Regions from separate parts of the Homo sapiens genome. Here region 2 is linked to region 1. The links come from fine-mapping of genetic effects on gene expression. A gene starts in region 1. The other region holds a variant in brackets. All regions are shown on one strand. Distances are from middle to middle. Region 1 holds the start of MAP2K6 (mitogen-activated protein kinase kinase 6). Region 2 overlaps MAP2K6 (mitogen-activated protein kinase kinase 6).

Region 1 (15,268 bases):
CCGGGGTTAGGGGGTTAATGTAAGAAAACAGCTCTAAACTTTGCAGGAGATGATAACTGGAAACCTCTCTGGTCCCATGCAGGGAGGCTTTCACGTTGACACAAAAGAAATGATGGAACCTCTGAGCTGGGTCATGATGATAACCAACAAGCCAGGCAATGGTGGTAGCAGGAGAGTTATTTTTGATTTCTTACGTCGGTGCAAAAGTAATTGTGGTTTTTGCCATGAAAAGTGATGATAAAAAACAATATTACTTTTGCACCAACCTAATACTTTCTAAAGAAATGTGGGATCAATAAGGGGAGGATGAAGAGTCTCAGGGAAGAATTAATAAGCAGCTTCTCATCGAAGGGAAGAAAAAAAGGAAAGAAATATAAAGCAAACAGGAAGAACACAACTAAGGGGAAAAGACCCCAGGACGGGCAAAAGGAGACGGGTAACTTAGTTCAGAGGAAATGAGCAATGACCTACAATTCTTATAACTAGGAGAGACACCACTCAGACGTTTCCTGTGGGCTGGGCCCAAGAGGTCTCTGGCTGAGCAGCAGAGCAGTAGTTATCCAGGTTAACAACTTCCAATTAAAGCCAGAGAGGAATGTTTCTGGGAGCTCTGTCATGAAGAGACCCCAGTATTCGATGGAATAAAGTCATAAAGGAAAGGGTCAACAAACATTTTCTGCAAGGGACCAGATAGCAAATATTTTTGGCTTTGTGGGACATAGGGGCTCTGGCGCAACTACTCAACTCGACAGCTGTCGAGCAAAGAGCAGCCATGGAAAACATATAAATGAATGACCATAGCTGTGTTCCAATAAAACTTTGTTTGTCGATGCTGAATTTGAATTTCGTATCATTTTCATGTGTCATGAAACATTGATTTTGATTTTTTTTCAATCATTTAAAAATGGGAAAACCATCTTCGCTCACGGGCTATACTTAAAAACAGCTGAGGCTTGGCCGGGCACGATGGCTCACGCCTGTAATCCCAGCACTTTGGGAGGCCGAGGAGGACGGATCACAAGGTCAAGAGATCGAGATCATCCTGGCCAACATGGTGAAACCCCGTCTCTACTAAAAATACAAAAAATTAGCTGGGCGTGGTGGTGCACACCTGTAATCCCAGCTACTCGGGAGGCTGAGGCAGGAGGATCGCTTGAACCCAGGAGGTGGCGATTGCAGTGAGCCAAGATCGCGCCATTGCACTCCCAGTTGGGCAACAAGAGCGCAACTCCATCTCAAACAAACAAACAAACAAACAAACAAAAACAACAGCTGAAGCTAGATTTGGCCCAGGAGCTGCAGTTTGCTGCACAGGCCCACCAGTCAGACATCCATCCTGCCTCTGCCACTGACTCGCTATCCAGCCATGGGCAAATTGGTTAACAACAATTGATTTCCTCACTCGTAAATTAAGGATAATAACACCAACTTTGTCCATAGTGTTTATGGGACATCCTAAAGCATACTATATGAAAAGTAACTGGCTTAGGGTAAGTGATGATGACAACAGCCTTGGGAGTGGTACAGGGAGGGGTTGTGATCAGCAGCTCCACCTGGGGCTAATGGTCTGTCCAAAGAAGACTAATCTCAAGAATCTGACTTAAGAAGGGATGTACAGACCAGAAAGTAAAACAGATGACAGGGATGCTGCAAATGCTTATTTAATGCTTCAACTCAGACTGGAGTTGACTAAATTACGATGATTTGGCCAGGCGTGGTGGCTCATACCTGTAATCCCAGTGCTTCGGGAGGCCGAGGTGGGTGGATCACCTGAGGTCAGGAGTTTGAGACCAGCCTGGCCAACATGATGAATCCCTGTCTCTACTAAAAATACAAAAATTAGCCTGGTATGGTGGCAGGCACCTGTAATCCCAGCTACTCGGGAGGCTGAGGCAGGAGAATTGCTTGAAACTGGGAATCAGAGGTTTCAGTGAGCTGAGGTTGCACCACTGCACTCCAGTCTGGGTGACAGAGCAAGACCCCATCTCAAAAAAAAAAAAAAAAAAAAAAAAATTACGATGATTTCTGATAGACTTCATTGTATGGGGATTATAACCTGAATATCCTCCTCAACTCAGAAAGAGGGAGATTATGGACTACATACTGAACCGCATGGGCCAACTCAGGAAGACCATCAAAGGAGACAGAGTGGGGTACAAGCCAGGGAGGAAGGGGCTGGGCAGAGGCAGTGGAGGTGGTCAAGGAGGAAGTGAAGAATCATTTCACTGGGAGGTGATCCTTGCGAAGTTCCCTGTTTTGTTAGAGGGCAGCCAGCTGTTAAAAACACTGTCTCTGGGCCGGGCGTGGTGGCTCACACCTGTAATCCCAGCACTTTGGGAGGCCGAGGCGGGTGGATCACGAGGTCAGGAGATCGAGACCATCCTGGCTAACACGGTGAAATCCCATCTCTACTAAAAATACAAAAAAAATTAGCCGGGCATGGTGGCGGCAGGCACCTGTAATCCCAGCTACTCCGGAGGCTGAGGCAGGAGAATGGCGTGAACCCAGGAGGCGGAGGTTGCAGTAAGCTGAGATCGCACCACTGCACTCCAGCCTGGGTGACAGAGCGAGACTCTGTCTCAAAAAAAAAAAACAAAAAACAACAACAAAAAAAGGATTGTCTCTGACAATCCTTCAGAAGCCTCATAGACTTAAAAACCAGCTCCTAAAACCAGCACAGGATGCAGAAATCACTTCAATTCTATTGGATGGGATTCTTCGGACAATTCATCTTCTCATATTTTTTAAAAAGAAAGTTAGCAGAGAATTGTGCAACCTTTAAATCTGTTCAGAAGGCTTAGGTAGGAGAAATGACACTTCGCCAGCCATTATAAGTTGCTTTTCATGCTGTTCTTGCAACTTCCAAATAATTAAGCAAATACATAATGGGAATATCAGTGCAAACAAAGAAGAAGCACAAGAAGAAAATTGCATTGTAATTTAATTACCCGAAATCTTTCATAAAACTTAGGAGCAAATGAGAGCTTATCCCTACTGATGAAAAATACTTTCATTGTCAGACATTTTTTGAGCACCTATTATTTATAAGGACAATGCTATAAGAGTCAGAGATGTAAAGATATATAAGAAAAGGTTTAGTTACCCAGCAAGGGCTTTCAAACAAGACAGTCCATAAAAGGCAAACAACCATTACAGTGGTTAAAACTTGCAGCTGTACTATGTAGGCACTGGGAATCAAAATGAGAGCATTTGCAAAATATCCTTTGGCAGAGAACTGGTAAGAAACCCCACCACCATGATTCACATGTCACCATTTCTTGGACACAGAAAAATAACCCCTGCTCATTATACCATCAGCTCCCCCTTGCCAGACTGCTCCCAACAAAAACAAGCAAAGCTAAAAATGTGAAATATACTAAAGATTCTGAAGAAAAAAAAATTTTATAAATGTGGATTATTAGTGTTCACGTGTGGTTTAGTGAAAAGAACTTACGGACAGAGAATCTGTAGATCTGACTTCTCCCTGTGACTCCACTCTACTGTCTTCAGGAAAGTCACTCACTTCCAAGGCCTCAGTTAGCTTATGTGTAAAATGAAGTGATTGGACTATAAAACTTTCATAGCTCTAAATTCTATCACTTAATATCAGGATGCATAAATAGGCGCATTTATTAAGGCTATGTTAAGGATATGTTAAATCTGATTGACTTATATGACTTGTGAGGTCATTAAAATTGATTCTTAACAAGAATCTTAAAGATTCTAGACTTAATTATTTTAACAAATGTAGGAAATTTAAGTCAACCACCTTTTGTGATTAGGCATTGCACAGGAAGCTAAAAAAAATTAGATTAAATTTCTCTGCAACAATGCATATAACACAACCAGGTGCTATGTAAGAATTATTTATAAACCTAAAGAAAAACTAATTTTGCCTGAAAAGATAACTGAAAATGCAGGAATGCCCAAAAGTAAGCTATTTCTCAGACTGGAATTTAATCAGATCACTACATTTTTCTTATTATTTTCATATAGGTCTGGATAGCTATAGACTATATAAATAAAATGAGTTTATAAAATATGTGATAGCAGCTTAAGACATTAGGTTAAAATTAAAATTAGAACTCATCAAGGAATTAAATTGTTTAGATACACAGAACCCAACTATCAATCCAGGATTACCTAACCTCTACAATATTGCTATTTTCTGGCTAACTTTGAAAATAATTTGATCCCCAAATTAATTAATTTTTTTTTTTTTTTGAGATGAAGTCTGGCTCTGTCACCCAGGCTACAGTGCAGTGGCACAATCTCTGCTCATTGCAACCTCCACCTCCCAGGTTCAAGCGATTCTCCCAAGAAGCTGGGATTACAGGTGTGCACCACCACGCCTGACTAATTTTTGTATTTTTAGTGGAGGCAGGGTTTCACTATGTTGGCCAGGCTGGTCTTGAACTCCTGACCTCAGGTGATCCACTTGCCTCGGCCTCCCAAAGTGGGGTTACAGGCATGAGCCACCATGCCTGGCCACCCAAATTAAAATTTTAAGGATATATTTCATGAGAAAAAAAGAAATTTGGGCACATGAAACACAAATGTCAAAAAAACTGAAAAATGCAACTGCCTTATCACTAATAATATTAGAGTAGAATATTAATAGCTTTCATCAAACTGCCAAAGATTTTTTCAAATTGTTATACCCAGGATGAAGAAAGGTACCATCTTCCTGAAGAGCAATTTACTTGGCAATATGTACCATTATGCTTGAAAGGACAGAATGGGCACGTCTAAATATTATTGGTAGAAATGAGAATTAGTGTTACCTCTATGAAGGGCAATTTAGCAATATATCTATACATGCCCTTTGACCCAGGACTTCCACCTCTAGGAATCATCCTAAAGAAATAATTGGGCAAATGTATAAAGATGTATGTTCCAGGTATTCCTTACAGTACTGTGTATAGCTGTGCAAAAAAATGGAAACTGTTTGAAAACTCAATATGACATTAAGTAAATGGCTACATTCTTACAAATTAAAATTCACGGTTGTTAAAAAATAGGTAACCTTATGTGTACTACTACAGAAAGATATCCAAGATATATGGTAGAGTATAAAAAAGCAAGTTACAAAATACAATATATAGTGTGTAAAATAACATGTACATACAAATATGGAGATAGTACCCAAAAAACTAACAGTAATTAGCTCTGGGTGGTATGACTTTGAGTGAGTTTTATATTCTTATTGTGAATTTATCTTTGGTTTGAATTTTTTGATTAGCATATGTCATTTTTTTTTTGCAATAATAAAAAGCTATTTTCAGAAGGAAGAAAAGAGAATGGAGAGTGAAGAAGAACTGGACATTCAAAGCCTGTGGTTTTGCTCCCTGGAATTTAATCTAAGGGCATAGTATGCATGATAATGTAGGAACTGGTATGATCATCACGGAAATATTCACAATAGTGAAAGTTAATAAACATTAAGATTCTATTTAAATAAATACAATGGAAGAGGATACTATGAATGTAGAAATATATAAACTTGGGAATATTTTGCCATATATTGGTAAGTGAAACAAGAGGGAACGAAATAGACTTAGTTTTACACACATTTTGGATGCTTCATACACATAGATAGAAAAAAAAAGTCCAAGAGAATAAATGCCAAAGTGTAGACTGCAGTAACTAGTCATTCTTATTTTTCCTTTTCTATGAAATGTTTCTATAATGAACAAGGGTTATTTATGAAATTTCTTTTAAGTTTTAAAAATATTCCTTGTAGATCTTTCAGATTTTAAAATACTGGGGAGTCATTAAAGTAACACTAATCTGAAAAACAAAGACAAGAGAATCTCAACTCTTTTCTCCAACATTAAATTTACCAACCAGAGACCCCTGAAGCCCCCTACAGTTAACAGGCCGCATGCTCTAAAGAACTGAATGCAATGCTAATACAAAGCAAGCTCAGGAAACCCAAGCTACCTATTCTGATTTTGTGTCCTGAGATGTACGGGGTTATAAAACATACTGGCTCAGATTACAGGCTAAGCATGACAAGTCCGTCTGGTACAACCTAACAAAGGAATTTATAGAGAACAAGAAATTTACACATTTCATTTCCCAAGGGTGGAATGAATTACAGAAGCAAAGAACCCCAGTAGAGTTAAGACCTTTCCTACCACTCTGCTATATGCTTCTGAATTGTGCCTCATAGGCATTTCTTACATGATTTACTTATTGCTCTCTAAAACTAAAATAAACTAATATTTTTTAAAGGTGAATAGGAGGAGAAGTGAGAAAAGTGTATTTTAACAGGGTCAAACTTTTTGTGTATTTTCAGGTGAACTGGGGGATGCCAGATCTCCCTACCTCCCTCTTTCTCTCCCTCCCTCCGGAGATCATTATGGCTGATAACAATAGTTTTTCTCTCCCGGGTAGTGTAGATGACACATTTTTCCTGTAGCTTGTCTTCCTGTAGTGTGCAGGAATTCCTGCACTTTCTGGGTGCCCTTCCTGTTAACTTACATTTCAGATTTCCTCAAAAGGCATTCTACTGCTTTAATATTTGAAAAATGTCAACTCAACCCCAGACAGCTAATATAAACAAGCTGAAAAGCATACCACCTAAAGTTACAACTGTGGAAAACAAAATTTCTTTTTAAGAAATTCTTTCTCGGAATCTCACTGTTGGTAAGGCTGTAGAGCAGTAACCCAGTCCTTCCAGCTTCCAGAGAGTCTGTAATTCCTTTGCCTCTGCTGTGCCTTAAATTAGAGGTCTGTTAAACCGAATTATAGTGATCTAGAAAGTTCGTAAAGGTCCTTGAATTGAACATATTGTTAAATTCTTCAATACTATGAGATTGTATCCACTTTTCACTTTTCCTCCCATTTCTTGGGTTAGAATATTAAAAAAGAAGTTTGGTACTGCAAAAAGTATTTTGGCCATTTGAGAATAGCGTAGCTGAATAAGGCCAATTCCACATTTAAAGTCCAGGCCAAGGCGGCTGGCTCTTTTGCCATTTCTAAAATGATCACCCACTTCTTTCTACCAATAATTTTCCTTTCGGACAAGAACCCCATGTTCATTCCAGATGTACTTTCCAAGCAGAATCCAATTAAGAAAACTCATCTGGGTAAATGGGAATTGATTTGAAGGACCACCAGTACCTGATCCATTGTAAACACATCCATAGGGAAGAGTGCAGTGCTAATATCTCCTTTGGCTTCTCAACTCAAAAACTGGCTCTACTAAGAGGGAGCCACGTTCATAGTGAGCCCAAAAATATGCAAAAAGGAGCCTGATTTAGTTTAGACCCTAAAGTCCAAAGATAAGATCACAGTAAACACCACCCTCTTCATAAACCTTCCTGACTATCCCCCAAATAGATAAATCACTTCCATTTTTAAACTCCAATAGCACCATTTCTCTTCAATACCTGTCCTATTATCTTGTATTATAATGATTTCCTTACATTCTTGTTTTCACCAACCCGAAGGAAAAACTTCATTTTAAATATTTTTGTGTGTCCCTAAATCATGTGCACACATACACACACAATACATACATATACATGCATATATATACACACATACATATGTATATACATGCATATCACAATATATTACACATATATTAAACTGAATTGAATGAATGAGCGAATGTTTACCAAATACAAAGTAACTAAATGCCATCTCTTTAATACATCAAAGCATGGACTGCCTCTTCTGAACTATTATTTCTCTACTCAATAAGGAGATTTTTAGGTTTTCCCCACTTGAGGAACATCTCCACCTGATATGTCAATTCCTAGGTTCTTCAGCACTCTTAACTTTTCAGATTTCCATTCTCCCCTAATACTCAAAGAAAAGCAGAGTGCTACTTTGAATGCTTGAGATTACTACTTCCTTCTTGGGCTGCTGAGATATATGACTCCCATCAGGTAGAATTAAAAAGCGGTGCAACAACTCCCCACACTCCCTCCCAAAAAAGTAGCAAAAAGCTTGTTAGACCCTTTAATTTCACCATGTCTTACTCAAAGAGTGCCCCGGGTAGCCTAATTCAATAGTATCTAACACCTCTCTTCATCATCCCATACTTCTCATATGGCATATGCTTTCTCTATGGTAAAGAAACAATTGTTCTGAAACAAGTGACTTGGGGTCCCAGGGGCACCTGACAGCACCTAGTCTGCTCTTTGATGTCATATCAGGAATTTTTTAAATCCCCTTCCCAGGGTGACATTAAGCCTGCAAAATACAACTGTGTTTAAAAACAAAAATTAAGAAAAGAAAATAAAAGAACATAAAGAAAACAACCATAACGTGAACTTCCAACCTATTACAGCTGACTAAATACACGCAGTTACACACTTAAAATATTTCATTATGCTTGTCAATGAAACAGTGCAGTCCCTTCACACTACTGTAATGCTTAAAAGTACAGTTTTACCCCCAATATTTTCCCCCAAGATGCAAAGCATCCCCCAAATGGGCAGACATAAAACATTAGGTCTTCACTGCTGCTTCTAAATTTTGCGAGCCAATAAGCAATTGGTGTAAAGTGCAAAATCTCAGAAGAGCAAGACTCGTCTGCTTTTTTGTGATATGCTGTTATTCACCCTTCACCTTTACTTCCTTTAAAAATCAAAAGTTACCTAATGTTCAAGGCGATATCAATGGAAATTTAGCTAAATACTGGCACCGCAACGGTCTATTTCCCCCAAAGAATATAAGATTACATTAATTTCCTAGTAGTTTAACTCAAGTTTTACCTTTCATCTTCACCTATAGAGTTTTTAAAAGTTTCTATTCCTGTTGCATACAAAATTACTTACAATATCTGTGCATAGTAAAGAATTTTACAATTATATAAAGCCTTGCACATTTAGACGCTACCAACCTGCTCTGTCTCTCCTGACTGTGCAAAAGGCAAAAAGAGCTCAGTAATCCTAGCAGAAGAATGCAAATAACGTCAATGCACAGCTGAACTGCAAGCCCTGCCTTACAGGAACTCTCTGTGTCTGCAAAAAAAGACACATACTAAACAGGAAATGCAACTGAGCTGTGGAAAACCTCAAACTTAAAAATGCACTCGCCAGGCGAAAATTGCATCCATGCATTCATAAATGCATGCACAACCCTTTGCATTTTTGCAACTAATGCAAACAGCCTCTTACCTTTCGACTGAGACATTTTCCCCTTTCCTTTGATGGGGGAGGGGAGCACAAAAGACTTTGCCTTGCTTCTCTTCTGTAGCTAGTTTTGCAACAAAGATGCAAGCTGCAGGCGTGCAATCTTCATGCAAGTGGAGTTTCTCTTGACCGATGCAGCAGATGGACTTTCAGGGAATCAAGATGGAAATGCACACCTTGCAAAACAGACTGGAAAGTGATTTTTCCCCCAGTTGCAACGTTAGGGAAGGCTGTGCTGCAGCTACATGATGGGCCAGGGCTGGCAGCTAAAAGCTCCAAACTTGGAACTGAGTATCTTAGTGCGCAGACGTCCTTCCTGCGAAGGGCGCGAAGGCCGCTGGGTAATGTAGTTCTCCGGCGGAGTCCACGGGGCTCTGATTTAAGGAAACGTGGTCGCCCCGGTCGCTGAGCGAGATAACTGGGTGCGACAAAGATTGCGTCCAGATAAACAAGTCAGACACACACTCAGTAGAGTGATGGGTGAAAAGCGGCAAGGCCAAGACGGGGCGGCAGTTTTGTTCTCGAAAAGCCTCTGAAACAACAGCTAAAGAATATTAGGTTAGCTAAAGAGCTTTTGGCTTGTCGAGAAGGTCTGTTTGGGAGTTTAGTGTGTTGATTTTGCAGCTCAGCACCTGTTGTGCTGTTCTTGCCTGTAGACGTTTTACCCTCACACCTCCGTTTTTTGTTTGTTTGGGGGTTTTTTTGTTGTTGTTGTTGTTGTTTTTTTCCCGAGAGGGAGTCTCGCTCTGTCGCCCAGGCTGGAGTGCAGTGGCGCGATCTCTGCTCACTGCAACCTCCGCCTCCCGGGTTCAAGCAATTCTCCTGCCTTAGCCTCCCAAGTAGCTGGGATTACAGGTATGCGCCACCACGCCCGGCTAATTTTTAGTAGAGACGGGGTGTCAACATTTAGCCAGGCTGGTCTCGAACTCCTGACCTTATGATCCGCCCACCTCGGCCTCCCAAAGTGCTGGGATTACAGGCGTGAGCCACCGCGCCCGGCCACACCTCCATTTTTAAAAACATTTTTTCTAGTAAGAAAAATGTATGGATGATTGGGTTGGCTGGAGGTAAGGTTACCTTTGCTCTGTGGAGAAGATGCAAAGTTTTATTTTGTCAGAAACAATCCAGGTCAGTTATTTCCAAGGAACCCGAAACTCAGTAGGGGGTAGGTGTGGGGAAGAAGATTGGAGGCTTCTCATTTCTCACAGGGTTACAGAGGAAGTTCTGCTTTTTATACATCAACGCTAACTTTATCAAAATTAAGGTATCTAGATGATTTTTTCTCACCTGGGAGGAGAGTCCCTGGCCTAGGGGGAAAGTGGGTGGAAAATGAATACAGTCGAATATCTTGAATTTATTCATTAAAATTAAAAGATACTTGTTGAGTGTCCAGGATGTGCCAGGCGCCTTTCTAGGGCCCTGGGATGTTCATTCATTCTGTACCGCTCACACATAGTGGGTACACAGCACCCTGATGGAGAACGGCATCACCTTTTTCACAAGGAAGCCAGAGATGCTTAGCACAATTCACTGCAAGGAATGGAGAGGAGTGAGCAGGGCATGGGCAAAAATGAGCTCGGACTTATACTTCATGGAGCAGACAGACTCAGAAATGTTCTTTTAAGACAGAGGGAGGAATTGAGGAATTCAAGGAGGTGTGGACAAAGCACTGTGGCAGAAATAAGGACAACCTTACTCAGAAGCTGCCAAGGAGACCTTGTTGCCTTGTGTGCAGGAGTGGTGAGGGCGGGGGAGATTTACAGGTGAGGACTCCACAGGGCCTTAAAAGGTGGGCTAGAGGTTTGGACTTTATTCTGCAGGTACTTGCGGGGAGGTGAAAGGGTCTTGCAAAGGGGCGTAACTTAATCCAAGCATTGTTTTAAGAAAGTAAATTTGCCCTCAGCAATCAAGGTGGGTTGGAACTGGGAGAGGCTAGAGATAGGTTAGGTCAGTAGTGAAAGGCAAAAAGAGGCACTTTGAAAGAAGATTCAGCTAGATTTGATGATTACTAATGAAAACTATTGGAATTGTATTTAGGATGCTGGAAGCCAGGACCATCTGCATAAGGGATGCATTAGAGGGAAGGAAGCCGTCTTATTTCAGCTGCAAACCAGCAAATCAAATCTTAAATATGCAATAGGTTGTGAGACTAACATTAATTTACTTAAGTTGGTCCCCTTTACTGACATTCTTGACAATTAGTGAAGGCAATCTAATCTCCATATTAGCTTCTGCCCCTAAGAGGAAGGCATTGCTGGTCTGTGAACACAGGTGCAAGGACTTTCTAACTCTTTTATTGTCCTTCTAGGCTAATCCATGTTGTCCCTTCCCTCCTATCGTATACACACAAGCTCAGCACCCCCTCAAACCAGCATGGTTTCCTAAGTCTCATTTAACCAGGAGACACGTGTGAAAATCTAGTTCACTTTCCCAAACACTGATGGAGCCAGGCCCTGGGATAGCTGCTGGAGCTTTCTGTAAACTGGCTTAGCCCAGGCAGGGCCTGAACAGCCACCTAGAGCTTGCTTCAATTTGCATTTTATGTGGTCAGCTGCATTGCTCTTAAGTAGCCCCAGACTCCCTTCTTTATGGAAGAGTTCTAATCACAACTTGTCTGGTGCATTTTGCCACTGTCATTACTGCTCTTACTTTCTCTGCATAGGCGTGCGGAGTCCACAGCTGGCAAATGGATTGTAGCTTGAAAGTCAATCTGCAATTCATTTTCCCATAGCACCAACAATATGTTCAGCAGCTAATATACACACACAAGCACACATGCATACACAAAACACCTCTCATCCATAAATTGGCTGAATCATCCGTTTAAAAATAGCAAAATTTTGTATCATATTTCTTTCTGGGAAAAATGTATCCTGAATTTCAAGTAGGAAATTGGGATGACAGGGAACTCAACCTCTCTGTGAAGTCTTGGTTCCCAGAAGAAAAAGTTCTTCTTCCTGCCTTGGTGTTCAAAAGTTTCCTCTCCCACATACGTGGGTGGTGGAAGAGGAGGTACCTGTGCTCTTCTTCCTGCCAGTCTTCGTGGTATCATTGGTACTAGGAGGAGAATCCTCCCCATTGTGGCGTAAGAAGGCAGGAGTGAATTCTGGCAGGTGTCTCCTTTTATATGCACATCAAGTGTTCATCTTCAGGTGGCCCATGCTTCTGTTTTAAATCCCCCATCTTTTTTTTTTTTTTTTTTTTTTTTTTTTTTGAGATGAGTCCTCGCTCTGTCACCCAGGCTGTAGTGCAGTGGCGCAATCTCGGCTCCCTGCAACCTCCACCCCTCAGGTTCAAGCGATTCTCCTGCCTTAGCCTCCCGAATGGCTGATGTTACAGGAGCTCACCACAACACCCAGCTAATTTTTGCATTTGTAATAGAGACAGTGTTTCACCGTGTTGGTCAGGGGGTCTCAAACTCCTGACCCCAAGTGATCCACCCACCTTGGCTTTGCAAAGTGTTGGGATTACAGACGTGAACCACCGCGCCTGGCCTCCCCCATCTTTTTAATTGTTTGTTTGTTTTTATTTTTTTTTTTAATTTTTTGAGACAGAGTCTCACTCTGTCGCCCAGCCTGGAGTGCAGTGTCATGATCTCAGCTCACTGCAGCCTCCACCTCCCAGATTCTCCCACCTCAACCTCCAGAGTAGCAGGGATTATAGGTGCATGCCACCAAGCCCAGCTATGTTTGTTTGTTTGTTTTTAGGGACAAGGGTCTTGCTTTGTCTTCCAAGCTGGAGTGCAGTGGCCTGATCATATAGGTCACTGTAGCCTCAAACTCCTGGGCTCAAGAGATCCTCCCACCTCAGTCTCCCAAGTAGCTGGGACTGCAAGCGTGAGCTACCATGCCCAGCTAATTTTTGTTATTTTTTATTGTAGAGACAGAGTTGCTGCGTTGCCCAGGCTGGTCTCAAAGTCCTGGCTTCAAGCAATCCTTCTGCCTCAGCCTCCAAAAGTGCTGGGATTACAGGCACCAATCTTTGTAATTTTCTGTACTTCAGATCTTTCTAAAATGCAAGTCAGATGCACTCTCCTCTCAGTTTCTAAATATACTCAGGATCTATTCCAAACTCCATGGCATGGTATAATTGGTTCCTCAAGACCTGGGCCCTGCTTTATCTCCAGCTTCATTTCTCATCGTATGTTGACATTAGAGTCAGGAGAAGGCAGCTTTTCTCACTCCTTGCCATTAGGTACATGCTCTCATGCTCGCTCTCTCTCTCTTTTTTTTTTTTTTTTTTTTTGAGACAGTCTTGCTCTGTTGCAATGGCATGATCTTTGCTCACTGCAACCTCCACCTCCCAGGTTCAAGCAATTCTCCTGCCTCAACCTCCTGAGTAGCTGGGATTACAGGTGTGCACCACCACATCCAGCTAATTTTTGTATTTTTAGTAGAGAAAGGGTTTCACCATGTTGGCCAGGCTGGTCTTTAACTCCTGACCTCAAGTGATCCACCCCCCTCAGCCTCGCAAAGTGCTGGGATTGCAGGCGTGAGCCGCCGCCCTCAGCCTGGTACATGCTCTCTGTCTAGCAAGACTTTTCCATTTTCTTCCTAGTTCCTTCTGACTTGTCCTTGAAGACTCAGCGGGCACGTCCTTTGGACTTTCTCAGCCACCCTCTGTAACACATCACCCTGGATTCCAACAAGGTAGTTACCACTGGCAGGGAAACCTGAGCACCTCGCCTGGAAAGAGCCTTGTGCTGTCAGGTTCGAGGTGTGAGATCCTTGGAGGGAGGCCTTTAGGTTAGGTCAGACTGGCATCTGAAGGAATTATTCTAGAGGCATATGCAGGGAGGAGGAGGTCGGGGAGGTGTCACATATATTCCACAGGCCAGGAACAGTACTTGTGACTTAATAGCTGAATATCAGTGTTTCTCAACTGGGGGTAATCTTGCCTCCCAAGAGATGTTTGGCAAGTCTGGAAATATTTTGGGTTATCACAATAGGGGGAGAGAGTGTGATACTGGGATCTAATGGGTATATTGGTATACAGGGATACTGGTAATCATACTATAGCATACAGAAAGCCCCACAACAAAGAATTATCTGGTCCAGATGTCAATAGTGTGAGTTTGAGAAACCCTGCTACATACCATGGAAAGTTACTAGATGCTCTTCTTTTTTCTTTTTTGAGATGGAGCTTCACTCTTTTTGCCCAGGCTGGAGTGCAGTGGTGCAGTCTCAGCTCACTGCAACCTCCGCATCCCAAGTTCAAGTAATTCTGCTGCCTCAGCCTCCCGAATAGTTGGGATTATAGGTGTGCACCACCATGCCCAGCTTATTTTGTATTTTTAGTACAGACGGGGTTTCACATGCTGGCCAGGCTAGTCTCGAACTTCTGACCTCAGGTGATCCGCCCGCCTCAGCCTCCCAAAGTGCTGGGATTACAGGCATGAACCACCTGGTCTGGCCTAAATGCTCTACTTTTAAGTTAATTTAAAGCTAATGAGATTTAGTAATGGGATATTTTGACATAGGAAAAACACTAGAATCTAAGAGATCTGGATTCTAATTCCGGCTGTAGAAAAAGTTAGCTGTGTCTCCTAAGGCAAGTCATTTTACCTTTCTGGGCCTCTTTTAGTTCCACTATAAAATAAGGAGACTCAGACTAAGGCCTCTTCCAGTTTTAATATTCCATGTCTCTAAACCCAACTCACCTGTTTGATTAAAACCACAATGATTTAAAGAGAGAAGGGAATTGTGATCACACATTCTATTTTATACACTGGCTAAACATCTTCCTGATCCCTTGCTTTGGCAAGCCACTGATGACTCTCATAACAACGTCTCTTAAGAGATGAGACAGGCCAGGCGTGGTGGCTCACGCCTGTAATCCCAGCACTTCGGGAGGCCGAGGCCGGCAGATCATGAGGTCAGAAGATCAAGACCATACTGACTAACACGGTGAAACTCTGTCTCTACTGAAAATACAGAAAAATTAGCCAGGCATGGTGGTGGGCTCCTGTAGTCCCAGCTACTCAGGAGGCTGAGGCAGGAGAATGGCATGAACCCGGGAGGCAGAGCTTGCAGTGAGCCAAGATTGGGCCACTGCACTCCAGCCTGGGTGACAGAGAGAGACTCCGTCTCAAAAAAAAAAAAAAAAAAAGATGAGAC
Region 2 (15,268 bases), 86 kb before region 1:
AAGACTAAATGCTTTCCCTCTAAGATGAGGAACAAAGCAAGTTTGCCTGCTCTCATGAACTTTATTAACCTAGGACTGGACATTCTTGCCACTTCAATAAGGCAAGAAAATGAAAGTAAAAATCAAAGTAAAGATTGGAAAAGAAAAAATAAAACAGTCTCCATTTACAGATGCCATGACTGTTTATATAGAAAACCCTAACGATTCGATGACAAGCTTCTAGAACTAATAAGTGATTTTAGTAAAGTCACAGAATAGAAGATCAATTGCAGAATCCACAGAATTCAAGATCAATACAGAAAAAATCTATTGCATTTCTATATACTGACAATGAACAAGTGAAAACCAAGTTCACAAATCAAATTCCACTTAAAATTTGCTCCAAAAAAAACTTAGGTATAAATTTTAACAAAATCTAATATAGAGGAATTGTATTATAAAAATGCTGATGAAAGAAATAAAATTTTTAAAGTTGAAGAAATATACCATGTTTGCAGATTGGAAGAACCAATGTAGTAAAAATGTCAATTTGCCCTAAATTGATCTATAGCTTAAACACAATTCCTACTAAAATCTCAGTAAGTTTCTCTGTGGACATAGATAAGCTTATTCTAAAACTTATATGAAAAGAGAAAGGCCTTTAGAATAGTCAACATAGTTCTGAAAGAGAACAGAGTGAGAGGAATCATGTTTCCCTGTTATGACTTACTCTACAGCTGTGGTAATCAAGACAATGTCATACTGGCAGAGGGAGAGACAAATAAATCAGTGGAACAGAATAAACAATGCGGAAATAACTTCAAACAAATATGCCCAATTGGTATTGACAAAGGAGCAGAAGCAATTCAATGGAGGAGGGATAGCCTTTTCAACAAATGGTGCTAGAATAATTGGTAACCCACTGGCCAAAAAAATAAAGCTCAACCTAAACTCATACCTTGAACAAAAATTAACTCAAAATGGACCATGGGCTTAAATGCAAAATGCAAAACTACAAAACTTCTAGACAGATCTAGGACTAGGCAAAGGGTTCTTAGACTTATTATCAAAAGCATGATCTGTAAAAGTAATAATTGATAAGTTGAACAAACTTTTGCTCTGTGAAAGACCCTGCTAAAAGCATAAAAAGACAAATTACAAACTGGGAAAAATATTTTCATATCACATATATATCGGACAAAGTCCTCGTGTCCAGAATATACAAATAACTCTCAAAAGTAAACAATAAAAAGTATCTAATTAGACAATGGGCAAAAGATATGCACAGACATTTCACCAAAAATATATAGATGGAAAATAAACACCTAAAAACATATTCTACATTATTAGCCACTAGAGAAATTGTAAATTAAAACTACATATAGGCTGGGCACAGTGGCTCACGCCTATAATCCCAGCACTTTGGGAGGCCAAGGCAGGTGGATCATCTAAGATCAGGAGTTCGAGACCAGCAGACCAGCCTGGCCAATATGGTGAAACCCCGTCTCTACCAAAAAAAGAAAAAAAAAAAATCAGCTGGGCATGGTGGCAGGCGCCTATAATCCCAGCTACTGGGGAAGCTGAGGCAGGAGAATCACCTGAAACCAGGGGGCAGAGGTTGCAGTGAGCCGAGATCACGCCATTGCACTGCAGCCTGGGCAACAAGAGCGAAACTCCGTCTCAAAAAAAAAAAAAAAAAAAAAAAAAAACTACATATATATCACTACACATCAGAATAGCTAAAATGAAAAACACTGATAATACCAATTGCTGGCAGAGATCCAGAAAAACTAGATTATTCGGACATTATTGCTGAGAACATAAAATGGTACAATTACTCTGGCCAATAGTTCAGCAGTTCTTTCAAAACTAAAGATGGGCTTACCATATAACCCAGCAATTGCACTATTGGGCTTACACCCCAGAGAAATGAAGACCTATTCTCATGCAGGAACTTATGCATAAATGCTCATAACAGCTTTATTCATAATAGCCAAAAATGGAAAACTACCCATATCTCCTTCAAAGGCTAAGGTGTTGAACCAACTGTGGTATAACCATACCATGGATGGGTACTTAGCAATAAAATGGAACAAACTATCAATACATGCAATTATTTACATGAACCTCAATAAAATTACATTGAACAAAAAAAAATCTCAAAAAGAGATGCATGATTTTGTTTATATAACAATCATGAAATAACAAAATGGCAAAGGAGAACAGATTAGCGGTTGCTGGGGATTAAGGACGGAGATGGGGAGAAGAGGTGGGTTTGATTATAAGAGGGGAGCATAAAAGAGTCTTGTAATGTTGCTGTAGTGAAGTATCTTGATTATAATAGTACTTATGCAAGACTTACACAATGTGATAAACTTTATAGAGCTACACGTGCACACACACACACACACACACACAAAGGAATACTTGCATAGCTGGCAAAATTAAGTTCTATGATTTGCACTACTGCCACATTCTTGATCTTGATAATGTATTATAGTTGTGTAAGATGTTAACTTGGGATGGCGGGGGAGTTTGGCATGGCCTGGGGAAAGGGATCTATGGGACTTCCCTGTACGTTTCTTTGCAACCTCCTGTTAATCTACAATTATTTCAAAATAAAAAGTTTTAAAAGTATATCCCATAAATTCCTATACAGGTAGTAAAAGTAGGCCACATATTTGACTGTAAGCTCTTGAGAAACCAGTCAGAGAGGAAACAATAGTAATTACACAGTTCACAGGTCTACGAGAAAAAGAAATTGCTCAGAGAGACCGAAAAAAAAAGAAAAAAAAAAGAGAAAAAGAAAACAATCTTGACAGCAAGTATGGGAAGACGGATCTTCCTCCTGCAGATTCTAATGAAAGGAACATTCTATCTTGAGTTTAGACTCTTGAGCTACAGTCCAGAACCCTGAAGAGTAGCCCTCAACTCTACTTTGTCCTTAAAAATTCTCCAGTGGAAAGTGTCTGTATACTGCTTCACGCAATGCAAGGACCAGTGGCTTTAACAAAGTCTTACAGCAGACATGATCCCATTTAAGAACACATTCCAACACTAGGGGTGCACTTCCTGATAGCAGATCATAGCTAAGATCAAAACCCATCACAAAGGGAGGCACTTTTGTAGACATGAACAAAAGCCTTACCAACTCACTTTTCCATTAGGATGCCCTCTCTTTGCCCTTGCCCTGTCTCTCTAACACCTCTATTGTGAGTTTCCTTGGAATTTCCATTCCTCTCATGCAGATGCCTTGGTAGGTGGTTGTACCTCCAGCTGGACAGGAAGTACCGTTCCCACCACACAGAGACAGATAAAAAATAAAAATAAAAAAAAAAAAAACAAGAAGGAGACATCCTCACAGAGAGGATGTCATTTACACGATGTCCTTCACTAGGACTTGAGCTGACTTAGGGATTTGGGCCAAAACCTCAGCTAATAAAAAAAAAGTGTTCCTTTACCTCATTCTTCCTTCTGTTTATATGGGACAGAATTTAAGTGTCAGGATGTGGGTCCTCACCAAATACCATCTTTCCATCTCAACCCAAGTTTTATAGTAGTGGCTTTCACAGGGATTTGCCTGTTTGCTCCAATCTACAGGGAAAAGGCAAGGAAGTTCACATCCAGGGGCCTTTCTGGCCTTACATAGAGCCCCATCTGCCAAATATATGTGACATTCACTTCCTACTCAACCAATAACTTAAGACACTGAGTTCAAAACTACCCATTCAACGTAACTGACTGATAAGATGACTATTTCAGGTCTCAGAACAGTGAGCAAATGGCTTCCCCCTTAAAGGGCTCTTCTAAAGTCAAGGCATTGCTCAGCAGTCCAAAAATAAACCCCCAGGAGGAATCTGAAAGCACAAGGATTTGGATTCAGATGATGGTCTTGTCAACTTACGTGGAACTGGTCTGAGGTTGTTCAAATGCTTCTTTTGGAATTTTAAGGCCAGGGTTTCGCTTCTTGCCTATGGGGAAAGACAAAAGGAAAAAGTTAAGGACTAAATCATAGCAAGATAGCAGAGAAAGAGACTGCGGCAAAGGAAAGAGCTGACCTGCACAGGCAGCTCTCATGTCTCCATTCAAAGCGCCACTTCCTACCCAGGAAGTCTGTGAGTGTTAAGAACCCAAGCACCAGGTAGGACAGAGCTTCTCAAATACAGACTGTGGTCATGAATGAGGTTTTTCATTAGTCCAGGGGGCAAACATCAGGATGAGAATGCCAACTCTCTTTTCCTAGGAAGATCTGCCCTTTCTCCCCACTGAGAATTTGTCATTGCAACTTTTTTTTTTTTTTTTTTTTTTGAGACAGAGTCTCACTCTGTCACCCAGGCTGGAGTACAGTGGCACAATCTCAGCCCACTGCAACTTCTGCCTCCTGGATTCAAGCGATTCTCCTACCTCAGCCTCCTGAGGAGCTGGGATTACAGGCATGCACCACCATGCCCGGCTAATTTTTATATTTTTAGTAGAGATGGGGGTTTCTCCCTGTTGGCCAGGCTGGTCTCGAACTCCTGACCTCAGGTGATCCGCTGACCTTGGTCTCCCAAAGTGCTGGGATTACAGGCATGAGCCACCATGCCTGGCCTTGTTTTTTGTTTTTGTTTTTTTTTTCTTTTACACTATAATGGTGATGGCAGACACTTGGTTATAGCTTTTTTTTTTTCTTTTTAGTGTTAGTAAAGGGTGGTCACCCTTATCTTAGTAACCCACTATTTTCTAAATCGATCTGTTAACTACTACAAAGTTAGCAATGGAAGTAGAATAAAAAATGCTTTTCCACTGTTCTGCCCTCCCCTTTTCCCAACCACCTGCTGTAATTTGAAAAACTTAAGAGAGGGATAGAGTAATACTTATTTACATTTTCCCTGTTCCAGAAAGGATTAAGATAACAGATGAGCTTATGCAAGGAAGTTATAACTTCTTCTTGGGCCAAATGGAAAGGTAACTTGATGTTGATCACACCTGGGCTGAAATTACAAGAGAATTTGGCTCGAATACTTTTGTTGATGAGTAAAAAAGAACAGACTGAGAAATGCCAGCTCAGGAAGCAGAACAGAGCAAACAAGGGCCTGGGGTTTTCCTCATGCATGGAGATCCTGTGTCTCTTTGCACTTGGCAGGGGAAACCAAGGGAGAGCTGCATAGAATGGCTGGAAAGAATGCTACCTTCTGCCCAGGCGCGGTGGCTCATGCCTGTAGTCCCAGCACTTTGGGAGGCCGAGACGGGCGAATCACGAGGTCAGGAGATGGAGACCATCCTGGCCGACACGGTGAAATCCTGTCTCTACTAAAAATACAATAAATTAGCCGGGCATGGTGGCAGGCACCTGTAGTCCCAGCTACAGGGGAGGCTGAGGCAGGAGAATGGCGTGAACCTGGGAGGCGGAGCTTGCAGTGAGCTGAGATCACACCACTGCACTCCAGCCTGGGCGACAGTGCAAGACTCTGTCTCAAAAAAAAAAAGAAAAAAAAAGAATCCTACCTCCTTTCCCACCTCTTCTCTACATTGCAGATGAGCACTCAGAGATAACACAAGCCCTGGATATGGCCCTGGATAGATCCTGAAGCTGCAAAGAAACTTAAACCAATTAAAATAACCTCCTTGCAGAAAAATAACATCCAAAGACTTCAGTGACTTGCTCCACATCACAGAGGTCAGCAATGACCCAGTCAGAATCAGAATCCAGGTCTCCTGACACCCAGGTGGGAGTTCTTTCTACTATCCTGCAATAGAAGACGTTTAGAGATGACTGGAGAGGGGGCAGGTGAGACGTACCCGGGATTTTGAGTTTTAAAATACCCAGCTGACATCTGGTTCTTCCACGCATCACGCAACTTCTAGAATCACTTTTCATCTGACTCTCAGTTTTCTCAATTGTAAAATGAGGAAGTAACAACCATACTCACCTCACTGGACTGATATGAGAATCAAAGCAGATAACATATATGAAAAAACATTAAGATACCTTAAGTAGCTGTTAATTAGATTCATTTAGGGAAACAATCAGTACTGTCTCATTTTTTTTAAAGTCATTTAAAAAATTAATGAAGAGAACTGGCCACATCATTATAGCCCACTATAATGTATAATGAAATTTTTCAATTCCTTCAGAATCCAAAATCAGATCAATTCTGCCAAGTTGTATATAGCCAGGAAAAAATATGCTTCGCAGTAATCAGCCTAGAGAAAGCCTTTTAGGACCACCTTCAGAATAAGAGGCTTTCTCAATTCTCTCCTCATTTGGGTTTACTTATGTATTTTATAAGGTTCAAAACTCACCATTCACTTTCCTGCTCTTGGAACTCAAACAGCTGTTAAGGATGTTACTAAATTAGTCAGTTATTGACATCGCATAGAGCTTTCCTATGTACCAGGAACTATGCTAGGTGCTGGACCCAGTTATGAGAATCCAAATAGATATATGGCCTAATTCCAACAATTCCCATCCATGCACCTCAGCCAAACAGACAGGGAATGTTACTTTCGATGAGATTCTTCAGTGAGGAATGAATGACGGATTCAACTTGTTTAGATAACTATACAGATAACTACATACAAATTCCAGTGCAGGTGACAGATAATTCAGGTAATCCCAAAAGGCGACCCTACAGTTCTCTCAACGAAAACAAAAACTAAAGTAACATATATTTTGCCTATGAAAACTGGTCTCCAGTTGTCATTTAAGCAAACCAAAAGCAGAAGTTACTCTTAAATTCCTACATCTTTCTCTTCTTTACCTCTAACTCAGTTCTTACAAGATAGATGTAAAGAGAAATAGCTATTTATTGAGAAAACCCCTTTGGAAAACTTTAATATAGCAAGTAATTAGTAGCAATTCTTAACAGCAATTAATTATTACACCATAACTTAAATCACCAAAACATCTATACAAAGAAACAGTAAAAAAGAGAGAAAGTTTTTAGCACAGAGACCAAAGGAATAAAAGACCAAAATAATAGTAAAGTCTTCCAAGTGGGAGGAGAAGGCCTTTGATTCTCTCCCCAGATCACTGTTACACCCAGCCACCCCCACAGCCCCCCACATCAACATCATTCTTACCCTGAATTTACTGCCTCCTAGTTGAAATTGCCAGCCTCCTGTCTCCAGACTCTAAACCCTTGACTATGTATATAAGTTGGACATCTGCATATCTTAAACCTAATATTTCCAAGTATATCAGCTCCTCAGAACAACAAGAAAAAAAAATAGATCCAGGAGACACAAAACCTAGTTGAATTACAGTGTTAGAAAATACTCTGCCTTCACGTTTACATCAAATAAAATACAAATCACAAGCACACACAGCAACACTCTGCAGTTCGCTTACTTGCCCATCTCTGACAGAGCAGCACAGTAAGAGACCAGCAGAGGCGACTCTGGTGAGGTTTTCGAGGCTGCAAGGAAGACCAGCAGAGGAAAACCTAACAGAAGTCATTCTTCACTTAGCTCCAAAGACCACACTTCGGCAAGGAGAAACAGAACTGAACAGACTCCACCCCCTCCTCAAGTTCGGATTGCAGCAAACCTCTGCAAGCTCATTGTTCCGAGGAAATTGCAGCTTCAGGAAGGGAGAAGGGAAGTGGGTCTATGTGGACACCCAGG[C/A]GTGACATTAATCATTAACCAGACTTGGAGGAATAAATCTATAAATCTGGACAGTACCATGTTCTGCAGCTTTTCTATAAATGCCTCTTTGATTTCTTAAAAGAAAGAAAAACAATATGTGGTCAGTTTCCAGCTGTGTTTACTTCACAGCAATCTGTTCCCCCAGGAAGGCAGCCAACACCTGACGCTAACATTGAACACTGTTAAAAAAAAAAAAAAAAAAACATGGGAGGGAGCACTATGAATAATAAAGCTAAGTGGCCAACTATGTTCAACAGTCTTTGCCTTTGATATTCTAAAGCAAAGCAGAAAAAATGTCAGAAAAAAAAAAAGGCTTTCTATGATGTCATATGCTAGCAACAAGCCTTCTCGGAAACAGAGAATTCTGTAGATTTCTGCAGATCGCAACAAGCCTCGACTGCTTATTGGCACAGTCTGCAAAGGGTAAGCCTCGTCGGCCTGATTGGGCATATGCAGCACTATATTGCATCAGACCCTGTTACCCGCATGACTGTGTTCTCTGAAAATAGTGTAATCCCACCACACACATATATTTGCAAAATTCATCTGAAACCAAAGCAAAGCTGGGTCATTATAATCCTGGCCTGGAGCAAAATGGCACTGGAAAAAAAAATTTAAAAAGCCTTGCCAATAGTTAGAAAATATTTACCAGGCCACAGAAATGTTCGCTAGCTTTGACTGCACCGAAAATGATGGGGTACACGAGAGGTCTTGCACACACTCTGAGAGGGTAAGCACAAAGCACTCCTCTGATGTTCCTCATTACATAAAACAGAAGATTATGTTCCACTGCCAACCCAAACAGCATGAGAAGCCCACGCGGTCAACAGAAGGTGGCATCGTGAAGATATGCTGATGCCTAAATATTTGTTAGCTTGGCCGAGGGTTGGGGGCACGACTATGAGAGTTTATGATTATTGACACAGCTTCACAAAAGGATGGCAGTGTTTCCAGTGCCAAATTTATTTTAAAAATCTGTTTCCCAATATGAATGGGATTTCCAGCCAAGTAACTGGCAATCTAGAGGCCTTGGCTGCCCTCTCCTTACTACTTGCATCTAGGCTTACGTTCCAAGGGTAGTTGGCAATAAAACCAGCAGTGAAGTATCATTCAGTGTTATTAAATTGCAATCATCATATGCAAAGCAACGAACGAAGCAGGGCAGGGGAAGAGGCATGCAGGAAGAAAGCTGGCTTTGCAACAGCAATGTAAAAGTGAACAGGGACTCTGCCATCCTCCAATCTTCCAAAACCACTGGCTCTTATATACCACTGAGATTCCAAACACTGAAGACAAATCTCTCTGGAATTACAGAAAGTTTAGAGAAGAAAAGCTGAAAACCTCTTTTTTTTTTTCTTTTTTTTTTGAGATGGAATCTTGCTCTGTCACCCAGCCTGGAGTACAGTGGCACAATGTCAGCTCACTGCAACCTCCGCCTCCCGGCTTTGTGTGATTCTCCTGCCTCAGCCTCCTGAGTAGCTGGGATTACAGGTGCCCGCCATCACGCCCAACTAATTGTTGTATTTTTTAGTACAGATGGGGTTTCACCATGTTGGTCAGGCTGGTCTTGAACTCCTGACCTCGTGATCCACCTGCCTCAGCCTCCCAAAGTGCTGGGATTATAGGCGTGAGCCACCATGGCCGGCCTTTTTTTTTTTTTTTTTTTTTTTTTTTGAGACAGAGTCTCACTTTGTCACCCAGGCTGGAGTGCAGTGGTCCTATCTAGGCTCACCGAAACCTCTGCTTCCCACGTTCAAGCAATTCTCATGGCCCTCAGCCTCCCGAGTAGCTGCGACTGGGAATACAGGCACGTGCCACCCCACCCGCCTAATTTTTGTATTTTTAGTAGAGATGGGGTTTCGCCATGTTGACCAGGCTAATCTCAAACTTCTGACCTCAGGTTATCCGCCCGCCTTAGCCTCCCAAAGTGCTGTTACTGGGATTACAGGTGTGAGCCACTGTGCCCAGCTGAAAAGCTCATTTTAAAACCTGCAGTCAGTTTGATTTCAGAGTCAGAATGAATCTCCTAAGACCTTACCTTTGCTCATACTGTTCCTTCTACCTGGAGGGCTCTAGCTGTCTTGCAGACAAGAACTCAACCTTCCAAATTCAAAACCTCCCTCATAGAACCTTCCCAGAGCTTCCTGAACACAATCTAAGGATTACTATCCACACATTCCTGCTTTCACATTCTGGCACCTTACACTCAGCCTGCAACACAATATGAGCTCAAAGCAGCTTCCCTGAAACTTTGATATTTTAGTTGAAAAATGTCCACTCTCTCTACAATAGATCTCCACGACCATCTTCCACTCATTTCCCGCAAACCTTTTCTCACAATCTAGAATTATTTTATTTTTGTATTTATTTATTTACTTCTGCATTTATTTATTACTTGTTTATCTACCTTTCTCCACTAGAATATAAGTTCCATGATGGCCAATGATTTTGCCCAGCACCTGCACATCATAAATATTTGTTGACTGAATGTTTGTTATTCTTTTCTCAACTGTTTTGAACATTTGTACAGAGCTCTTCAAAAAACAAACAAACAAAATGAACAACCAAGAATGGAATGGAAATTGCACAAACCTCTGCATCAATAAGAATCATTTCAAATCCCAGCTGTCCCACTTAGTGACGTAATGTTGAGAAAGTTTCTTATCTTAAACTGAGTTTCCACACCTGCAAACTGGAGATGATGTACAATCTCCGCAGGTCATTAAGAGACTCGATTGACACAGTGTGTGTGAAGAAGCCTAGCAGGGTGTAGCATAATATAGGTGCTCAATAAATACTTCCTTTTGTCCCTTCCATGTTTACGCTTACATTTTTAAAATATGAGTTAAGCAGAATGTTCCCTGGATGGCATCTTATTTCTTCAAATTCCGTGCTCCATTCTCCCTCTTTCGTGTTATTTACACTAGAATTACATTTTTCAAACATCTCATCAATCTTGAATCTACCTCTCTTTGTGCCCACTGACTATGGGAACTTCTCCAGGTCTATAGACTCAGGATTTCTGGGACTGAGTGTAGTGAGTGCTTATAATTTTACATTGCCTCAGTATCCATTTTTAAACCTAAGTTAAACTATCTCACATCAGAAGCAGGGCTCAGTCACTCTTAACACGGTGTCTAATACCACACTCCACCAGATTGGCTCCAAACCAGTGGCCAGACATGAAACTTAGAGACATCTCTCCTGCCTAGCAGGCTGGCCTCCCTACTTTCCTGCCACTCCCTTTAAACAGACCATGCAGACATTTGCCCACAAACGTAAGGTGACCACCTCTCAGTCACGCTGTGACCTCCTAGAACTAGTGCCTGCTTGCTTTAAACCCAGCAATTAAAGCTCCCTGCAGGAAACTGGATAACGCCCTGTACCCAATAAAGACATTGGCTCAGTGGTCCCTTCTCTCTCTCTCTGCGTGCACGTGTGTGTGTGTGTGTGTGTGTGTGTGTGTGTGTGGCTTCCAGGTGTGTGTGTGTGGCTTCCAGGCGTGCTGGGTGCCATACAGAGTCTCTAAGTGCTAAAAAGTCTTAAAATCTCACATTGTAGTTGTGTCACTGAAGCCACACTTGCAATCCTATCCCTATGGGTGAAACTGCCCCAAAAGGACCCATGCAGGTGGGTCCCCTGCTGATGCCCTTTTGTCCAGGTCTCTCAGCTACTGGGGACAGTAGTTACCAGCTAAGTTGATAGAGTGAGGCTTCAGGATCCATATATTTTTTTAAGTTTCACAAGTGTCTGAGAAATCAGCCACAGTTAAGTAGCCCTTGTCTACCACATGTCTATGTAAAGTTGTTTTGTGTTTGTTTGTTTGTTTGTTTGTCTTGTTTTACCATTTCTCACTTTATGTTGCCAACGTCACTTTCCTCCAAGGCTCTTGTCACATCCCCCACAACCCACCAGTTCTTTCTGATTAGTAAGAATTAAATTCCAAGCTAGCTCCTCACTGTGTTATCTCTATCTTTGAGCTGAAATTGTCAATCATTCCCCAGGGTACACATTGCAAGGGTCAAAACTTATTAAGATGCAATTCTGCCATCGAAGCATCAGGAGATATGAAAACCCAACTCCATAATAACAGCGGGTATGTGTGATGTGCAATACAAGCATTGCACCCTGAAAGCAGGAGAGAAGAAGCAAGACAAGCAACACTGAGAAATGGTCTCACATACGAAGTGGTATTTGAAGTGGCCCTTTGATTTTGGTAGGATTTAAGGGTACCTGAGGGTTTGTTATACTGTATGTCTTCTTTATATATTTAAATATTTCCAAAATCAAAGTTTAAAAAGACCATGGGTGGGATTTTGACAATCAAGACTTGGAGAGACAATAAGGGGATTCAAAGTAAAATGAGGATGAAATATCTTTGTAAGGAGAAGCACTGTGGTATATTCAAAGAATTCTGAGTTTTCTACTCTGGACAAACTGAAAAGTGGTGGAGAGAGAAACCTGGAGGAGGAAGTTGGAGTCAGAGATCAAAATACTGTAACAAATATATTTTAAATTTCAGATGTAAAAAGAGAAGTCATGTATGTTTTTCAGTAGAGGAACATCATGCCACATCCATGCTTCAGAAAAAAAAAAAGATGTAACAAGATGAACTGATCTAATAATATCAGGATGTTTTGAAACTGTGCTACACACACACTCATGCATAAACCCACATACTCTCATGCCTTGATGTTTTATGCCTCCAGGTCTTTGCTCTTATTTTCCTCAGAATGTTGTTATTACCTGTTTTCCCCAGTCAACTGCGACACTCAGCTCAAGTATGTTTTTCTCCAGGAAGTCTTCCATGAAAGTCCCCAATGCAATAAATACCTTTCCTCTGTGTTGCCACAGTACCCTGAACCTTCCTATGCTGATTAAGTGAACCCATCTGTTCATCCATGTCTTCCACTAAAAATGCAAGCCCTTTGAAGTCAGGGCCCATGTCTTCTTACCTATGTACAGAGTTTAAGCACTAGACCCAAAAATAAGAGGTAGAGACCACAGCAATCTGGCTCACAAATAAGCTGCTTGAATTTTGCAGAGGCAAAATCTATAGGCTCTGGTCACTTACTGCATAAGAGGAACAAAGGAACAGAAGCATAGTAGTAGTACTGGAAGTAGTAATAGTAATAGTAGAAGTATTGCTACTAGTAATAGTAGTGGTAATAAAAATGATACTCGTCATCTGGCTTTTCCACCCCCAAATGAAGTTAAGTGAAAGAGGAAAGTCAGGTCAGTGGGGGTGGCCAGTGGGGAAAGGGCAGATCATGAGTTCCAAGTCAGATGTATTAAGTATAAGATGCTGCAGGGACGGGACGCATGGCAGAATTCAAGCAGGCAAATGGAGCTTAAGAGAGGGACAGGAGGAAATGAGTAGATCTGGGAATGACAAACAGAGAGGTAGAAAGTTGCCTGAGACAGACAGGGAAACAAGAAGAATGAAAGAAGGTGGCCAGGTGCGGTGCCTTATGCCTGTAATCCCAGCACTTTGGGAGGCCAAGGTGGGCGGATCACTTTAGGTCAGGAGTTCGAGACCAGCCTGGCCAACGTGGTGAAACCCCATCTCTACTAAAAATACAAAAAATTAGCCGGGCGTGGGGCACACGCCTGTAATCCCAGCTACTCCGGAGGCTGAGGCGGGAGAATCGCTGGAACCCCATCTCTACTAAAAGTACAAAAAATTAGCCGGGTGTGGGGCACACGCTTGTAATCCCAGCTACTCTGGAGGCTGAGGCGGGAGAATCGCTGGAACCCGGGAGGCAGAGGTTGCAGTGAGCCGAGATCGCACCACTGCACTCCAGCCTGGGAGACAGAGCAAGACTCCCTCTCAAAAAAAAAAAAAAAGAAGGGAAGGCAGCCAGCCAAGCTAAGAACATTTCGAAGAATCGGTGAAGGACACAAAGAATTACGTTCCTGTCAAAGAAGAATGAGCCAGCCTGTCCATCCGCTAATTGGGAAATGGCCCCATTTTAAGAGAATAAAAGTGCTCAAATGGGTTTTATTACAGCTTCATGTGATTAAAGCTAAAAAAAAAAAAGTCCTAGTAGACCTTTTATGTCATGTTAACAATTTGGTGTTGACTAAGATGTTCTTAAAAGAACCTAAAAGCAAATCACAGCCAATGCCCTGAGTTATGTTCTAGGCCCAGGGAAAAGGCAGGAGGCAGGCAGTAGGGAACTCCTACTGTCTCGGTTCATCTCCTTCCTCATTTATGGGCTGCTTCACTCATTAGCATTGATCGCAAGGAAATGTAGTCATAAGGGTGTTAAAAACATCACTTTAAAATAAAAAATGGCAATGGGTTGCAAAGAAATTTAGTGGCGTGCTCGAGCTTTTCAAAATACACACTGGGTTTTGGTTAGGTTTTAAAAAATAAGTATTTTTTTTTTAGAGATAATACTGAAATGTTTACGAGTGAAATGATATTATTCTAGAATTTGCTTCAAAAAAAAAGGCAGAGTGGGGGATAGAGATACAGATAAAATAGGATTGGCCATGAGCTGGTCATTGTCAAAGCTGAGTGCTAGATACCTGGCAGTTATAATACAGTCCACTTTTGAATATGTTTGAAATTTACCAAAATAGCCAGGCGCAGTAGCTCAAGCCTGTAATTCCAGCACTTTGGGAGGCTGAGGCGAGTGGATCACCTGAGGTCTGGAGTTTGAGACCACCCTGGCCAACATGGTGAAACCCTGTCTCTATTAAAAATACAACAATTAGCTGGGCGTGTTGGTGGGCGCCTGTAGTCCCAGCTACTTGGGAGGCTGAGGCAGGGGAATCACTTGAACCTGGAAGGTGGAGGCAGTGAGCCGAAGTCTCGCCACTGCACTCCAGCTTGGGCGACAAGAGCGAGACTCCAGCTCAAAAAAAAAATAAATAAAAGAAAAAATAAAACGAAATTTACCAATATATAAAGATGTTCTTAAATAGTAACAGAATCACAGAAAATTCTGTTTTAATAGTTAAAAGAGTGGCATAGCGAATAAGAGGGGTGAATTTGTTGTTTTTTTTTTTTTTTTTATGTGGAAGTAATGGATTCTTTTTTTCCTCTGGTCCAAGACCACAATTTTGGGTTTTTGTTTTGTTTTGTTTTTTGGTTTTTGGTTTTTTTTCTAGACAGAGTTTCGCTCTTGTTGCCCAGGCTGGAGTGCAATGTCGCGATCTCGGCTCACGGCAACCTCCACCTCCCAGGTTCAAGCGATGCTCCTATCTCAGCCTCCCGAGTAGCTGGGATTACAGAAGTGCGCCACCATGCCCGGCTAATTTTGTATTTTTAGTAGAAACAGGGTTTCGCCATGTTGGCCAGGCTGGTCTCGAATTCCTGACCTCAGGTGATCCACCCGCCCCAGCCTCCCAAAGTGCTGGGATTACAGGCATGAGCCACCACGCCCGGCCCACAATTTTAATAGCACTCTGATCACCTCCCTTTTAACCAAAGGAAACTCCAAGATAGTAACTTTAATTCAACCAGCTGCTTGAAGACTAAGGGGGTAATAAAGAAACAAAGGAACGTTCTTCATCTGCAACTCCTCCCCTAGAATGCTATCAGTACAGGGTCTTATTTCCCTTTTAATCCAGGGGCTCTCCATTCATTTTGTTTTTTCCTTTCTTTTTTTTTTTAAAGACAGAGTCTCACTTTGTCACCCAGGCTGGAGTG

Evidence for each region. PIP is the estimated chance that this variant, and not a neighbour inherited with it, causes the effect.
Region 2: its variant is fine-mapped to the expression of MAP2K6 in whole blood (TOPMed, PIP above 0.99).

What each region holds. Positions count from the first base shown.
Region 1 is chr17:69,408,870-69,424,137 of GRCh38, reverse strand. It overlaps MAP2K6 (mitogen-activated protein kinase kinase 6), which reads right to left and starts at 9,441. Exons shown (of 12, transcript NM_002758.4): 1 at 9,138-9,441. The coding sequence starts at 9,153.
Region 2 is chr17:69,494,462-69,509,729 of GRCh38, reverse strand. It overlaps MAP2K6 (mitogen-activated protein kinase kinase 6), which reads right to left. Exons shown (of 12, transcript NM_002758.4): 2 at 3,884-3,950. Among named protein-coding and RNA genes, the nearest start is that of MAP2K6-AS1, 17 kb to the right of the region's middle. RefSeq lists enhancers at 2,892-3,393, 5,588-5,647, 5,718-5,767. The variant C/A (reference allele first, on the strand shown) is at 7,588.